Regions from separate parts of the Homo sapiens genome. Here region 1 is linked to region 2. A link means that fine-mapping ties the variant in region 2 to the expression of a gene that starts in the linked region. Tissue or cell type: whole blood. Region 2 holds a variant in brackets; the other region holds the start of a gene. All regions are shown on one strand. Distances are from middle to middle.

Region 1 (5,000 bases), 48 kb before region 2:
AGGAGAATGGTGTGAACCCGGGAGGTGGAGCTTGCAGTGAGCCAAGATCACGCCACTGCACTCCAGCCTGGGCGCCAGAACAAGACTCCATCTCAAAAAAAAAAAAAAAAGAAAGAAAGAAAGAAAGAAACAGGGTCTTGCTCTGCCACCCATCATGACTCACTGTAGCCTTACCTTCCAGGGCTCAATCAATCCCTTCTCACCTCAGCCTCCCAAGTAACTGGTACAGGCGTGCACCACCACGCCCAGCTAATTTTTGTATTTGTTTTGGTAGAGATGGGGTTTTCCCATGTTGGCCAAGCTGGTTTCGAATTCCTGGGCCCAAATGACCCTCTTGCCTCGGCCTCCCAAATTGCTGGGATTATAGGCATGCACCATCATGCTCGGCCGTGGCATCTGTACTTGGCTGCTTCCTGAAAGCAACCTCACTAGCTCTATAGCAGCCAGCTCTTTCCACCTCTCAGCCTTACGCACATGGGCCTCCCCGCCAAGTATACTACCCACCTCCTGTCTCACAATCCCAGCACCTCAAGATCCATCCTTGTCTCCACCCCTGCCTATACACATGCAGGTGCCCCTGGGCCTCACCTCAGGTGTCTGGCCACCTGGTCAATGTTGGACACGTTCAGTTGGTCCTTGATGATGCTGAGATCTCTGTGACCGCTGCTGGCAATGAAGTCACTATCACTCTCCGCATGTTGCTCACCCCAGGCCTTCAGGACCCAAATATCACTTCTAGGCAACTGTTTCTTTTCTCACAAAGGCAATATAATATAGTGCAAAGAGTAAGAGTTTGGGAGCCTAGGTTTGCAAATGAGCTCTGCCACCCTTCATTGTGTGTGACTTCAGGCAAATCACTTATCGCTTCTGAGCTTTAGTTTCTTTTCCTTTTTTTTTTTTTTTTTTGAGACAAGATTGTGCTCTGTTGCCCAGGCTGGAGTGCAGTAGCACCATCTTGGCTCACTGCAGCCTTGACATCCCGGGCTCAAGTGCTCTTCCCACATCAGCCTCCTGAGTAGCTGGGACTACAGGTGCGTGCCACCACGCCTGTTCAATTTTTTTGCACAGATGGGGTCTCACTATGTTGCCCAGGCTTCTTTTTTTTTTTTCTTAGAGACAGGGTCTTTGTCACCCAGGTTGGAGTGCACAGGTGCAATCATAGCTCACTGCAGCCCCGAATTCCTGAGCTCAAGCAATTATCCCACCTCAGCCTCCCAAGTAGCTGGGAATACAGGCATGCGCCACCTCACCTGACTATTTTTTTTTTCACTTTTTGTAAAGATGGGGTCTCCCTGTATTGCCCAGGCTGATCTCAAACTCCTGGCCTCAAGCCATCCTCCCGCCTCAGCCTCCCAAAGTGCTGGGATTACAGGCATGAGCCACTATGCCCGGCCTTTAATTTCCTCTTGTGCAAAATGGAGATTTTGCCCACCTCCTCAGGCTGTGTGAGGATTAGAATAAGAAGTTGCTGCCATCCACTTATGAATATTTTATCTCATTCAGTCCCAGCTGTAAATACCATTTGTGACCATCCTCTTCAGCTCTCCCTGCCTCCCTAGCCCAGCCCTCACTCCTGTTCTCTAGGCCAGAGGAACAACCGCCTGCTGGACATGGCTTCCTTTCTTCCCTCTTCCTACAAAGCTCTTCTCTTTCATCTCCCTGAAAACTGCTCCTCATACTACAACACGCAGATCAAACCACTTTCTCCAGGAAGCTTTGCCTGTCCCCAGGCTAGGCAGGTGTTTCCTCTGGGTTTCAGTAGCCCTCATGGGCTGATAATCTCTATCACAAGTGGCGGTGGAAGTGCCCAGCCCGTGACTGGAATCTCCTGCATGGAGCCAGGTGCAACCCACCAGTGGGCTAGGGCCCTCTGCCAAGCAGGGACAGATCCCTCTCTCCTACCATCACCTTACCTGGGCCCACCACCTCTCATCTGGAATATCTCCTGTTCTGGCAAATCACACCTGGGCTCCTCCAAGGCAAAGTGCAGGACCCTGGGGCTATACTGGACCCAAGCTTGGGCCTGGTCCCTGCAGAAGGTGCACAGGAAGGAAGCTGAGAGGCTCCTTTCTGGAAACCACAGAAAAGGCAACCCTGGCTCCTTGTTAGGGGCAGCGCTAGCCCACCTGGTATCTAGGGAAAGGGCCCAGGCCTGAGGCTCCCACCTGCCCTCACAGATGGCTTTGTGGCGGAGACCCTGGAGCAACTGCCGGAGCTCCTGGCGCAAGAGGTCCTTTAGGAGAGGCGGTGGTGCCAGAAGAGAAGAGGGGTCAGAGATGGGGCGGGAGCTGGGGGCTTGAGAGGATCGAGCCTCTTGGAGCAGTGCCCGTAACATCGCCACCTGCAAGGAGAGCTGGGATACCTTGCGACTGGGGAGGGGAGTGTCCGGAATGGTGGGGGCTGGGGGAGTGAGGGAGAGGGCGGAGTCAAAGGGGAGACCAGGATAGGATCTCGGGAGTTACCCGGCAGGGCCAGGGACCCGCAGAGGTGGGAAATCACCCGAGTCGTGGGGCAGGCCAGGGGCGTGGCCCACCTTCCCTCTCCCCACCTCCGCCCGCAGCTCCAGGCTCAGGTCCACCGCCGCCTCCCCCAGAATCCTCTTCACTTCGCGTCGCTCCCGGAGCGGAACGTGCTCCTCCACCAGCTCCCACAGCGAGGGGGAGTGCCGGAGCATGACCCACCGACGCCGCCGTCCCCGGCTCGGACCTACGGGCCGCAGGTCAGAGTGCGGGAGGTACCGCGGGCCCGCCGGCAACGCTCACCAAACCCCGCCCCTCTATGGGCCCCGCCCTCTCCCAAGCCCCACCCGTGCTCTGCCGCTGGTCCCCTCGGCTGGGATTGCCCGTTCCGGAACTGCCAGTCCTTGGCGCTCTCTTCTGCCCGGCTTTTGGCCGACTCGGATGCCGGGGGCCCAGAAACCAGGCAGTGGGAACCAGGGCCCTAGCCCCACCTCTTCCGCGTGGCCATCACCCGGGAAACCACGCCGCGACTCTAGGGCCCCGCCCCCTCCCGTGTTTGGTCCGGCGGGCGGCGCGTGCCGGCTGGGAGTTCAGACTCACCTCGGCGCTCCACCGAGCCCTGACCCAAGCACTTTGGGCTCGGCCCTGGGCACCTTTAGGCCTCAGGGAACGTGTTAAGACCTGAGAAATCTGGGTCCACGGGTTTATTACTTCGTCGCCTCCACTGTCCCGGAAGCAGTGCAAGGACAAACTTCCCCTTAAGGCCAGTGAAAGCCTAGGGAGTGGCAGCGCTTGGAGAACCAGGATGGCCCGGGTCAGGTTTACTTGTTGGGCCAGGTTCCCCAAGTGCCCTTCCACCACAACACACTCAGGGTAACCACGTTCAGGGACCCGACCCCCACCCCCAAACAGACAAGGGAGCTGCTCCATTCACGTTTTTTACTAAAGCACCCACACAAGTTTCTGTGCAATGTACAAACACAAGCCGGCCCTGGGGCTCCTGCCTCCTCTCTCAGACAGGGAGGCGGGAACCAGACTTACTGATCCAAGCCCCACCTGCCTCCCATGCAAAGGCCAACCCCAAGATCCCAGGCAGCGACACAGCATCCCCTCTGGTCCCCTCCTGGGGCTGCTCCTCAGCAGGGGGCGCACCAAAGCTTGCCCCCTACAATGTTGAATGAAAAAGGTTTCCCCTCCCCTGGGAGCAAGGGGGTTCCCAAGAGCTGAGAATTCCCCCTGGAAGAGACACTGCCCCCTAGACATACCTCCCACCCTTCCAGGCCCTAGGGGACTCAAGGGGGGGAAACTGAGGCACAGAGAGGTGGAGTGACCTAGCCCAGGCCACTCTGCGAGGCAGTGCAGGGGCTGGCCCGACCCTGACAGTGACTGGGGCTGGGCTAGGGGGAGGGGGTCGGGAAGGAGGGTTGACTCCAAAGAGGGCCACACTTGAAGAGCCTGCCCAGGCAGGAGGCCCCCCAAAGTGGGTTCTGAAACTTCCAGGTGTAGCTAGGGGGCCTAGTGAAGACCCTTGGAAAACAGAGCCCAGTCTCAGTCCTGGAGGTCCTCCACAGAGCAGCTGCCAGCCAGGCTGTGGTCAGTCCTCTGGCAGGCAATCTTCGGCACCGAGAGCCTCTGTCCATTAGTGTCAGCCCCGAGGGGGCCACGACGGAGGCCGCCCAATGTCCACTGTGATATTGGTGAAGAGTGGTTGCCGAGACACCTCCAAGACCTGGTACCGCACTGACCCAATGCCGTCCCGCTTCATGGTCAGCTTCGTGTTTTGAATCTTGGTAAACCTAGATAGGATGGAAATGGTCCACATCAGGGCTAACAACTGTAAACTAAAAATAAAATCCTACACCCCCCAACCAACTAAATGGACCCCCTTTTGGCCAAGGGGACCCCAGGGAACCTTAAAAACAGGGTTTCCAGCTATGATGGGAAGGGACGTCAAACATGCCATGTTATGCCCACGCCCTTTTGCAGCTTAGACACAACAAATGACCAGCATTAACGTCAAAGCAGAGATCACAAGACTGACAGAATGCATTGTTTGTGTCAATAAGATACCTAATTATAAATAGGATCTAAGGCCATGCCAGGCAAGGGTTAAGTCTTGCACCTCTGCACTTAAAGAAGAGACTATGCTCTAACTGCCGCGAGGATTTTCTTTTTCTGTAGCAGCTAAACAAGTACAGGACTTGAGATAACCAATATTAAAACAATTTGTATAATGTGGTAATATAAATAATAGAAAAAAATTTGCAGCTCACCCACTGCCAGATGCTGACCCCTACGCCCCTGTTCCACAAGCCATAATTATAGCTTTGGTGGGACAAGAGACTGATCTCAGTAACTTTCTCCTGATAAGACCATCGGCCATGGACTGGTTCTAGCCAGCTTACAGAGGCTGCGCACTTGAGTGCTTTTGTCTTTTTGACGTATGGGGCCTAACTGCGATATATTTAAATATTAAGTCTCCACCCCAAGGTGAACATGGATGGTATATAACATGCATGTTTGTTCGATATGCATATGTCA
Region 2 (5,652 bases):
CAGGGTCGATGGCCTGTACCCACAACACCCCCGCCTGGGTGAGCTCTCGGCTGCTATGAACAGGTCATGGGGCTGGAGGGTCACGGGAGAGAGAGAGCCCTTCGTGGTTACGGAGGCGTCCAACGAAGCGCGGAGATGCAGCTCCGCTAGTCTAGGGCGAAGAGTCCGTGGAGTTGAGGGGCTGTGGCAGGTCCCTTCCGTTCGGCCTGGCCCGCGCTGTGCTCAACGCCCGGCTACAGCCCCGCTACAGCCGCTGCCTCCGCCCCAGTGACTGACAAGACAAGCCAGGCCGGCCGGGACGGGGCAGGGACCTCGGCAAGGCGCGGGCTGCCCCGAGCGCCTGTCCCCGGCACCTCCAACTCAGGCCCCCACTCCTGCCAGTTCTGGCTCGGCACGGCCCGGTACAGGCCGGCACGGCCCAGCGGAACTGCGCGGAAACTCATTCCGGGTCCTTAGCCCTGTCCTCGCGCCAGCTCGCACTCCCCTGAGCAGGCGGTGGAGCGGCTCGCCGCCCCAGGCCGCGGCCGAGTCTAGGCCCCGCCGCTGTTCACCCTGGGAAATGTAGTCCGTGTTGCGCCTAGCCGGAAGGCGGCGCCCTGCGGAGGAGGCCGGGAGCACGTGGGTTGGGGACCTGCAGAGCCCCGCCTGTCCTCGGCCTACCGCGGCGAGCAGGCATTCCGGGTCAGACCGGCGCGGGGCGCTGCGGCCCAACTCCTTAGTAGGACGACGTGACTCGAGGGGCCGGAGGACGGAGGTGGGAGCCCGGGCTAGAGGGTGGAGGCTGGGGAGGTTGCCTGGTCACTCTGGCGCTCCGCTGCCGGGGGCATCCTCCGGCCCAGCAAAGGTGCAGCCTGGGAAGAAGGCGTCAGCACCACCCAGAGAAGAGGAGAGGGGACTTGGCACGCCTCAGGAAGGAAAAAAGGAAGGCTCTCGGGACCACCCAATAAGCAACCGGGAAACCACATACCATGGACAGTGCTCGGGGAATTTCGTAAGGTTTTTGGAAGTAACTTTATGTGTAACTAGAGTAAGAGTAGCTTACATTTAAGTGCTAGGAGCAGGACTTTGCTTACCTTAGGTTCAGTTTTCTTAATAGCTCTGAGGTGGATATTTTTATTCATCATTTTCAGATGAGATGAGGAAATCGAGCTTGGGGAAAGTTAGGCTTATCTTGCCCCTGGCACACAGACAGGGTGGCAGACCATGCCATAGATCTGGTCTGCCACAGGCCCCGGTAGTTCCTGCCTGTCACCCCTCCAGTTGTATTTTATTGTTTATTAACTCCTGCCAGCTACCCTAGCAGGGAAGAGGAAAAAATTAAAAGTGCAAAGAGCTCCGTAGTTTTGTTCAAATGGAGGAAGCTGGCATTGGAAGCTGGCATTGGCAGCAGCTGCTGAGGCCTGAGAAGGTCCATGAAGGCTTCCCTGAGAAGAGAAACTTGATCTGAGCTTGAAGAATAGAGAGCCTGGGAAGGAGAGGGGCCCATTTAGCTGGTAAGCAAAATCCAGTAGGACTCTAAGTCATTCAGCAAGTCTTCATCAATAAAGAATAGCAAGTAGGCCGGGCGCGGTGGCTCACGCCTGTAATCCCAGCACTATGGGAGGCTGAGGCGGGCGGATCACGAGGTCAGGAGATCGAGACCATCCTGGCTAACACGGTGAAACCCCGTCTCTACTAAAAATACAAAAAATTAGCCGGGCATGGTGGCAGGCACCTGTAGTCCCAGCTATTCGGGAGGCTGAGGCAGGAGAATGGCTTGAACACGGGAGGTGGAGCTTGCAGTGAGCTGAGATCACGCCACTGCACTCCAGCCTGGGCGACAGAGTGAGACTCCGTCTAAAAAAAAAAAAGAAAAGAAAAGAAAGAATAGTAAGTAATTTATATTCATTTTAAGAGAATATATGTGGGGTGGGGAAGGGGAAGGGTATGAGTAACAGAGATGAGGTTGGAAAGACAAGTTGGTGGCAATAGATTCTTGTAGGAGTTTGGACATTATCCTAAGTGCAATATGAAACCATGATGGGGTTTCAAGTGAGCAATGATGATTACATTTGCATTTTAGAAAAATCTGCAACATGAAAGACAAATTGAAGGAAGAAAGAGAGGCAGGAGACATTTGGAAGGAGGAAATAGAAAGCCAAAATAAAGTAACTGATTCCAGGCCTGTGCCTAGGGTGTGAAATACCTTGGGCCTGGTGCTGGCTGGCGGTTTCACTGGTGGAGGTGGTGGTGGGCAGGGGAGATGGTGTTGGGAGTGGGGTTTAAATGCACAAATTCTGGACTTAGTCCTGAGTTCAAAACCTGTTTATGCCTCTTTCTAGCAATGAGACCTTAGCTTCTTCTGAAACTCATTTTAGTTAAGGGGTTTTAGGGGTGGGGGGCTCAGCCCAGAGACCACAACTTAGTCAGTATGTGTTTTCTTCCTGCTTCCCATCCAGGGCTCCTCCTCATCCCTGGAGGTTCCAGGGATCTGGCAGAGAAAGAAGCCCAGTCTCACAGCAATGACTCCTGAACATCCTTTGCAAACACTATTTAGGACAGATGGACTGAAGTAGGCCCTGGGGAGAGTTGGGGGCATTTCCGGAGGCCAGACCAAAGGTGATCTCCAGGAGATTTGGATGTTAGTGCAGGATAGCTCAGAGCCAAGTGGCAGATAAGTCTTTGGGAGCCAGAAGGGCTCTTTCTTCTCTAAGGAACAAGTGTAGACCTATAGGGGCAAGAACCTGTGGCAACCCTGGGAGAGGTCTGCAGATTCAGGAGGGAACATCCCAAAACTCAGCAGAGGAGGAGAGGGAGCTTTTGTTGGTCACCTGGAACCACTACCAATCCATGTTCATGTCAAATTAAATGATCACTTTGAAGTTTTTCAGCCTACCAAAATCATGTGAATTTGGTCTGCAAAACCAGACGACTGCCTGCTTGCAGTTAAGAATTCTCAGCGGGAGGCCGGGCGCAGTGGCTCA[T/C]GCCACCAGCACTTTGGGAGGCTGAGGTGGGTGGATCACGAGGTCAGGAGTTCGAGACCAGCCTGGCTAACACGGTGAAACCCTGTCTCTACTAAAAATACAAAAGTTAGCCTGGTGTGGTGGCGGGCACCTGTAGTCCCGGCTACTTGGGAAGCTGAGGCAGGAGAATCTCTTGGACCTGGAAGGTGGAGGTTGCAGTGAGCTGAGATCGCGCCATTGCACTCCAGCCTGGGCAACAGAGCGAGACTCTGTCTCAAAAAAAAAAAAAAAAGAAGAAGAAGAAAAAAAAGAATTCTCAGGGGGAGATTATTCCCCTTTCTTAGTACCAAGGTTGGATGTAGGCAGTTTTCTTTGTAGTCCCCTGGTTTGAGGGAGAGAGGTTAGGTCAGACAGGGGCAGGTTTCTTTCTAATTCACCTTCACAGTGTAGGCATACACTGGCCTTTGAGGTCCTGGCCTTATGGAGAAGTTTCTAAATAGACTCCCCATGGTGAGGGGGCCCTGGGCTTTGTCTTTCTCATAAGCCCAGAGACCCCTTGAAAACCAATGATCAGGTTCTCTGGGTTCGGCAACTGCCCTCAAGATGAAAGCCAATGACAGAGCTTTGCTTACCTTTGTAGCTTCTTGCTTTCATTTACTTTTTTGGCCTCAGTGTGTTTCTTACATTTTTGCTAGCTTATGGATGCATTTAATTTTAAAGATAGATAGAGTCTAGTATTTAAAGTTGTTTTCAGGAGGAAGTTTAGCCCAAGTCCTTAGGCCACCATGTTGCAAGAAAACCTAACGGGCAGTTTTCGGTTCTGATGCAGCTTGATTTTTGTGCTGCATCTGGCCCTATTGACCAGTCCCTCAGCTCTTCTGTTTGGTTTTGTTTTTCCCGACACTCTGACTACTCCTTTTTGGTTTCCTTCACTGGCCCATCCCTGTTCCTCCACCTGTTCCTTAAATGTTGGTCCTCCTTAGTCTCCGCTTCTTGTCTTATGCCTCATTATCTCACCACTCCCCTGGCTTCAAGCTGTGACTCCTTGGATTTCTCCAGCCCAGACTGTCCTGGGTTTCAAACCTGCATATTTAGCTGCCTCCTGGCCCTCTGAAGTTGCCACAGGCACCCAAAGTTGAACATGTACAAAACTGAACTCACATTTTCCCCACATCTTACCCCTATCACATGCTAAAATACTACATCCCCTGTGTTCTGTACCAGTCCCCCAAGCTAGACACCTGGAAACCATCTCTCATCCAGCCCTCACCTCTCTTATTGTCCCTCACATCTCTTCTGTCCTTGCACATTTGCTTCTGCCCTAACTCAAGGTACCTGTGCTTGTTGCCTGAACGGCTCTAACTATGGCAGCTCTAGCTGGCACCCACCTTGCCTCTTCCATCCATACTAGACACAGTAGCAAGTGATCCATCTGAAACACATCTCTAACCAAGCCCACTTAAAACCCTTTAGTGGCTCCTTTCAGAGCGAAGGCTGAGCTTCTCGGTATAACATTCAAAGCCCTTTGTGACCTCTCCAGTCTTTTGTCTTGATGAGGACCCTCCCCAAGTCCACCTGAAGTTGCTGGCAATCCTGGGAGCGCACCAGGCTGTTTCACACTTCCCTGTCTTTGTTCATGCTACTTCCTCTGTTGAGAAGGCTCTGTGTCATTCTGGATGCCATCAGGAGAGAGACATCACACAGTCAGCAGGCAGGGAAAGTTCAACATAAGCATTTTGAAGTGTAACAGGGAATTGAAGCTGTGATGAACTGGCTAGTAAGAAGTAAATAAATAAATAAATAAACAAATAAAAATCTAAAGAATATAGGACTAGCAGAGTCTTCAGGCTGAGATGGAGAGCCCAAGGAAGAGGCCCTCACCTCTCCACTCCATTCCTGTCCAGGGCTGAGAACCACACCGTGCAGGACAGGACATGGCCACAATGAACAGTGTACATTTAGAAGTGAGAGGAAATAAAGGCAATCAGCAATAACCAGTTCGGGTTCCATGCCTCTCATCCACCCTATAATCCACCCTGTGCAAACAAACTCATTTTTCAAGACTCAGTTCAAATACCACCTTTTCCACAAAGACTTTTCCTCTTCTGCGTCTATCCAGGAAAAAACTGATTCCTCTTCCTTTGTGATTGTAGAATCTGCCCCCTCCTTGACACACATACCTATAACCTCAGTCATACTTCTACTGGGGTACTTGTTTACCCCTACCTAGGGTTGCCAGAAAAAAATCAGGACACTTATTTATTTTTTTTTTTTTTGAGATGGAGTCTTGCTCTGTCACCCAGGCTAGAGTTCAGTGTCACGGCTCACTGCAACCTCTGCCTCCCAGGTTCAAGCAATTCTTCTGCCTCCTGAGTAACTGGGACTACAGGTGTGCACCACCATCCCCGGCTAATTTTGTATTTTTAGTAGAGACAGGGTTTCACCATATTGGCCAGGCTGGTCTCAAACTCTTGACCTCGTGATCCGCCCACCTCGGCCTCCCAAAGTGCTGGGATTACAGGCATGAGCCACCGCACCTGGCCATCTATTTAATTTTGAATATGAGATAAACAACAATTTTTTTTTTTTTGAGATGGAGTCTCACTCTGTCGCCTAGGCTGGAGTGCAGTGGCACGATCTCAGCTCACTGCAAGCTCTGCCTCCCAGGTTCACACCATTCTCCTGAGTAGCTGGGACTACAGGCGCCCAC

What was found. PIP is the estimated chance that this variant, and not a neighbour inherited with it, causes the effect.
Region 1: CCDC24 starts here. The variant in region 2 is fine-mapped to the expression of CCDC24 in whole blood (INTERVAL, PIP above 0.99).

Annotation. Positions count from the first base shown.
Region 1 is chr1:43,989,553-43,994,552 of GRCh38, reverse strand. It overlaps CCDC24 (coiled-coil domain containing 24), which reads right to left and starts at 2,954. Exons shown (of 9, transcript NM_152499.4): 1 at 2,807-2,954; 2 at 2,549-2,706; 3 at 2,166-2,341; 4 at 1,914-2,030; 5 at 589-666. The coding sequence starts at 2,674. B4GALT2 (beta-1,4-galactosyltransferase 2) reads right to left here. Exons shown (of 7, transcript NM_003780.5): 7 at 3,385-4,255. The coding sequence ends at 4,105. RefSeq lists silencers at 2,501-2,550, 2,691-2,800.
Region 2 is chr1:43,941,583-43,947,234 of GRCh38, reverse strand. LOC101929609 (a long non-coding RNA gene) reads left to right here and starts at 636. Exons shown (of 2, transcript NR_188535.1): 1 at 636-754; 2 at 2,439-2,880. IPO13 (importin 13) reads right to left here and starts at 285. Exons shown (of 20, transcript NM_014652.4): 1 at 1-285. RefSeq lists a silencer at 240-489. The variant T/C (reference allele first, on the strand shown) is at 2,964.